Linked DNA regions of Homo sapiens: region 1 is linked to region 2. A link means that fine-mapping ties the variant in region 2 to the expression of a gene that starts in the linked region. Tissue or cell type: thyroid. Region 2 holds a variant in brackets; the other region holds the start of a gene. All regions are shown on one strand. Distances are from middle to middle.

Region 1 (2,674 bases), 51 kb before region 2:
CCTTCCTGTCTCCCTGCTCCTACTCCAGGGGCCCTGAGATTGGGAGGTTGGGAGGCCAGAGCCAGCAGGTGTCCGTAGATGAGGAGCTGGGCTCTGCTGTCCCCACAGATGACCGGTGGTTTCCTGAGCTGCATCTTGGGCTTGGTGCTGCCCCTGGCCTATGGCTTCCAGCCTGACCTGGTGCTGGTGGCGCTGGGGCCTGGCCATGGCCTGCAGGGCCCCCACGCTGCACTCCTGGCTGCAATGCTTCGGGGGCTGGCAGGGGGCCGAGTCCTGGCCCTCCTGGAGGAGGTAAGCTGGGCAGGGTGGAGGTGCTGCGGGGTGGGACGAGGGAAAGGACCAGTGACTGCTTCCGTCTTCGCCCCTGGTCCAGAACTCCACACCCCAGCTAGCAGGGATCCTGGCCCGGGTGCTGAATGGAGAGGCACCTCCTAGCCTAGGCCCTTCCTCTGTGGCCTCCCCAGAGGACGTCCAGGCCCTGATGTACCTGAGAGGGCAGCTGGAGCCTCAGTGGAAGATGTTGCAGGTGAGGCTGACTGCGGAGGCATGGCCCTGCCCTGGGGCCTGGCTCTGCCGCACAGATCGGTGGGGAGGGCAGGGCAGGGGAGTGCCCTGAACCAGCTCCAGCGCCGGAGGCCAACTGCGCGCCTCTTCTCGGCTCCTCCTGTAGTGCCATCCTCACCTGGTGGCTTGAAATCGGCCAAGGTGGGAGCATTTACACCGCAGAAATGACACCGCACGCCAGCGCCCCGCGGCCGCGATCCGGACCCCAAGCCCACGGCTCCCTCGACTCTGGGGCACGGAACCCCGCCCACTCCCAATCCCCGCGCCCCGCCCTCTCCCACCCGTGCTTCCCCCGCTCCACCCCTCACCTCACCTCGCCCCCGCCCCACCCATCGCGCCCCGGCCCGTCCCATCGAGGCCCATGCAACCCACGCTCGGTCCCGTTCCGGCCCCTGCGCCCCGCTGCGCTTCGCTCCCCGCCCTTGCGCCGTTAGTAAACATCGCTCAAACGAAACGCTGGCTCTGCCTCCTTTACTGAGCACGCTCGGCCTCGGTCTCTCACCCGCGGTGCCGGACTCAGGCCGGAAGTATGCCGCGGCCCAGGCCTCACCAACTTCACGCGCTGCCGGCGTTCCCGTGACGTATTTCCGGCGCGCCCGCCCTAGTGCTCTTCACACTGGCGCGGCTGTGACGCGACGGAGGCGGCGAGAGCGGCAGCCGTGGGCACTTTCCACGGGTGAGGCCTGGAGAACGGGTGGACGTGCAGGCCAGAACCCGGGACCCACCCGGCTGAGCCCCCAGACTCTCCGCTGCCCACGACCCTCGGAGTGGCACCCTCTCCTGGCCGTCTCCTCTCGTGGGTCCCGAAGAACGGGTGCAAAGCCGAGTTCGTCCGCTGTACTGCGCGGGCGCGCGTTTCGTTCTTCGGTTTTGCCACGGTTCTGTGACTCCCTAAAGGTTGAGGGCTACTGAATTAGAAGAAACGCCGAGCTGGCTTCTGGTGGGCTGCCGGGCGCCGGGCAGCGTGCTTGGACTGGGGAGGGCAGGGCGTGTTTACTCTGAGTAGAGCAACCGCAAGACCTCCTTTAAAAAATACCAGTTCTGAGCTTCGGCATTGGAGAGGCCGCCTGTCATTCAGCCTCTTCGGACCCTCTCTCACTCCCTGTCTTCCGGAGCGTGAGTGAAGCCCGGGTGAGGTGTTTTCCCACACGCCGGGGGCCCGGAGCTGAGAAGGGGCATGGCCAGCATCACGCAGCTGTTCGACGACCTGTGTGAGGCCCTCCTGCCGGCTGCCAAGACTCACCTGGGCCAGCGCAGTGTGAACCGGAAGAGGGCAAAGCGGAGCCTCAAGAAGGTGGCCTACAATGCTCTTTTCACAAATCTTTTTCAAGATGAGACTCAACAGCTGCAGCCTGACATGTCAAAACTACCAGCGAGAAACAAGATCCTCATGTTGTCCTTTGACTTGAGAGTGGGTGGCCTGGGCCCCAAGGCCGACCGTTTGGAGGAGCTTGTGGAGGAGCTGGAAGCAGCCCCTTGCTGTCCGCTTTTGGAGGTGGGGTCTGTTTTGGACCTCCTGGTTCAGCTGGCAGGGAGTGGTCCCCCTCAAGTTCTGCCGAGAAAACGAGACTACTTCCTTAACAACAAGCATGTGGGGAGAAACGTTCCGTACAGCGGCTATGATTGCGACGACCTGAGTGTGTTTGAGATGGACGTTCAGTCTCTGATCTCCAGAGAAGAGTGTTTGTGTCACAGCATGATCCAGGAAACACTTCAGGTTATGGAGGCTGCTCCAGGCACTGGCCTGCCCACCGTCGGGCTCTTCTCATTTGGTGACCCTTGTGGTGACAGGTTCGAGAGAGACACCCGGGTCTCGCTCTTCGGGGCCCTTGTGCACAGCCGCACTTATGACATGGACGTCCGACTGGGCCTGCCCCCCGTGCCAGACAATGCGGACCTCTCTGGGCTGGCTATTAAGGTAGAATGTTTAGTTTTTCCTCTTTCATCTCTCTCGGGGTTTGGAAAATGCTTCCTGTGACCTTTCTTCTTCTTCTTCTTCTTCTTTTTTTTTTTTTTTTTGAGACAGTGTCTCACTCTGTCACCCAGGCTGGAGTGCAGTGGCGCGATCTTGGCTCACCTTAACCTCCACTTTCTGGGCTCAAGCAATTCT
Region 2 (2,674 bases):
GGCTGCGCACCTGCCTCACGGCCTGCTGCAGCTTCTCCAGGCTGAGCTCCTGGGCCTCCCGCAGCAGCGTGCTCTCGTCCATCTTCAGCATGGACACACGATATTGGCAGAGCTCCACGACCACCACGTCAGGCTGCACCTCCCGGATGGTCTGCAACAGCCACAGGTCACACCTCGAGAACACAGCCGCTCCCTGCCCCTCAGCACAGCTGACGCCAGCACCAGGGGCCCCATCCCAGGAGCAGCCAGCCTTGGCGTCACCCCAGGGCTAGCTAACCCCGCTGCTGCAGTGACAGCTCAATTCTCTAAGCGACGAGAGAGGAAGCTGTGAGGCTTGTTCACTTGTTAAGTGGGAAAACGCACAAGGCCGTCACGGCTCCCAGGCAGGAAGCCCACCTTGCCACTCCCAGGGACCACAGTGTTGAAGCAGGAGGCCTGCGGTGCGCACACACGGGCACACGGGCCCTGCCGGGAGGTCCCTGAGTGCAGGACACAGGAGCTTACACCAACCCGTGTCCGGGATGTGGCGGGTGGCGGCGCTCACCTTCACAACGTCCCTCTTGCTGTCGTCGCTGAAGTGGGCTGTCCCCACCACGTACACCCTGCTCCCGTCCTCAGCCACCAACTGGGTCACAGTGCGCGGCAGGTTGGGCCGCTGACGCCGCCGCTTCAGCTTCATCTCCAGGAGCAGGTTGAAGGCGTCCACGTCGGCTGCAACAGCAGCACAGGCCGTTGTGGTGCCGGGCCCACCCCAAGGACGCCGCCGGGCCCGCTGGCAGCCTGGGCTCTAGAACCCTCCTGGGTTCTGAGAACTGAACAGGTGCAGAGCACAAGACTCCTGACGAGCGTCACACTCCACAGGCTTTGCCTGCCCAGTGATGGGAACACCGGCTACCACCTCTGTGAGCTGCACGGCTTCGAGAAGCCAGGGCCTCAGGAGTCCTGTGCCCCATACACCCCATGAGGGCGACCTTGGGGGTTGCTGTGGATGAGGTTCGGTGTGGGGGACAGTGGGGGCAGGTGCCGCAGGGGGCTCAGCTAGGGGAGGGGCTCTGAGGCGAAATGGGCCCCCCCACCCCACTCAGGAGGGACAGGCTGAGGCCACAGCAAGGAGGGACTCCCGTGCCGCTCACACTGCTTGTGCTCACGAGCCCCCCATGCCCAGGGGCCTGCCTGTGCTGCTTGCAGCCCCTCCAAGAGGCTCCACTGCCAGGCAGGGCCCAGGAGCAGCTGCTGTTGGGTGGCACCAGGCCTAGCAGCACCTACCTCAGGTCTCGGCCAGGGCCCCTGCTCACCACAAGCTCCAAGCCCCTGGCAGTGGTTGGCTGCCTCCCCCTCCTCCCTGACTCAACAGCCCAACACCGGGGAACGTGCCAGGACCCTGAGGGACACGTACACAGGTTCTGGGGGTCTCCAGAAAGCACCCTGGGCACCGGCTCTGAAGCCTCTGA[C/T]GGCACAACAGGTTCCACGTTGGCCTGCAGGTGGAAAGGAGAGTTCAAGTCAGGGTCCATGCACCCCAGAAAGCCAGGGCTCCGTGGCAACTCCACGGACCACGTACCCTGGAAAGGGACCCGTGGCCGCTGTGTGGACCACACACCCTGAAAAACGAGGGCCCGTGACCGCTCCACGGACCACGTACCCGGGAAAGGGACCCGTGGCCGCTCTGTGTACCACACACCCTGAAAAGCAGGGCCTCCGTAGAGCCTAGGCCCCACACTGTCAGTACCCCTCCTGCTTGGCCATCACTGGCACGGCTGCCATCAAGCTGGGCAGACAGGGCCACCAGGCCACCTCAGCCCAGCGCCCCTCTCCCTCGGAGGTGCCTCCTGCCTGACCCTGGAGAACCCTGTGAAGATCACCTTTGCAGAACAACAGCCAGGGACCGACCCCGAGAGCCCACAAAGCGGGGAAGCCCCCCGCCCCTGTCTCTGTGCAGCCAGCCCAGCCTCCACCTCACCTCGTGCGGTGGCTGCTGCTCCTCCCCGTCCATGGCTGGGCGGCGGCTTCCTGCACCTGTGGGGAGCCTGAGGAGAGGCATGAGAGGCGGGGTTTCCACCTGGAGCCCCAGACCTGGCTCAGGACTCACTGCGTAGTGCCCTGTCAGTCTAGAACCATCTGTTGGGTGGGCCTGGGGGCTCCTTCCCCCATATCCCCAAATGCCTCCTGCCCATCAAAGGCTGCTGAGGTCCAGGGTCGGTTCAGGTCAGGCCCGGGTGGGGAAAGGCCAGCAGGTCCCCAGACACCCCAGCATAAACCAAACGCAGACGGGCCCAGGGCGGGTTGCTGGTGCACAGGCCTCACTCAGAACAGGGCCAGAGCTGCCCAACCCTCACTGCGGCACGGCGGGCACACATAGGAAGGCAGCCCTGGGGTCCACACATGATCTCAGGACACAGCAACGCAGCTGCTGACACATGGCAAGGACCCCAGGGCCTTTGTACAAAAGCCACTTCCCCTTTCAGTAACTACAGCCTGGGCAACAACACCGGCACAGAGTCAGTACAGACGGAGGAATCCACAAAGCACACAAATCAACGTGTTTGGACCTAAGACCTTCTCTCCCACTTTAAGAGACAAACATGGTGTGGAAGGAACCACGGTAGAAACCCGGACAGGCTGGGGCAGCCACACGAGGGGGCTGCCCCGAGGCATCACAGCTCCCCACAGACTCTCA

Evidence for each region. PIP is the estimated chance that this variant, and not a neighbour inherited with it, causes the effect.
Region 1: TUBGCP6 starts here. The variant in region 2 is fine-mapped to the expression of TUBGCP6 in thyroid (GTEx, PIP 0.97).

The regions. Positions count from the first base shown.
Region 1 is chr22:50,243,527-50,246,200 of GRCh38, reverse strand. TUBGCP6 (tubulin gamma complex component 6) reads left to right here and starts at 1,178. Exons shown (of 25, transcript NM_020461.4): 1 at 1,178-2,482. The coding sequence starts at 1,742. HDAC10 (histone deacetylase 10) reads left to right here. Exons shown (of 20, transcript NM_032019.6): 18 at 109-291; 19 at 374-526; 20 at 671-1,018. The coding sequence ends at 694. RefSeq lists a silencer at 806-875 and enhancers at 1,346-1,395, 1,806-2,085, 1,659-2,589.
Region 2 is chr22:50,192,377-50,195,050 of GRCh38, reverse strand. It overlaps TRABD (TraB domain containing), which reads right to left. Exons shown (of 10, transcript NM_001320485.2): 2 at 1,958-2,024; 3 at 1,397-1,475; 4 at 545-711; 5 at 11-151. The coding sequence starts at 1,990. Among named protein-coding and RNA genes, the nearest start is that of TRABD-AS1, 7.1 kb to the left of the region's middle. RefSeq lists enhancers at 2,312-2,401, 2,482-2,531. The variant C/T (reference allele first, on the strand shown) is at 1,452.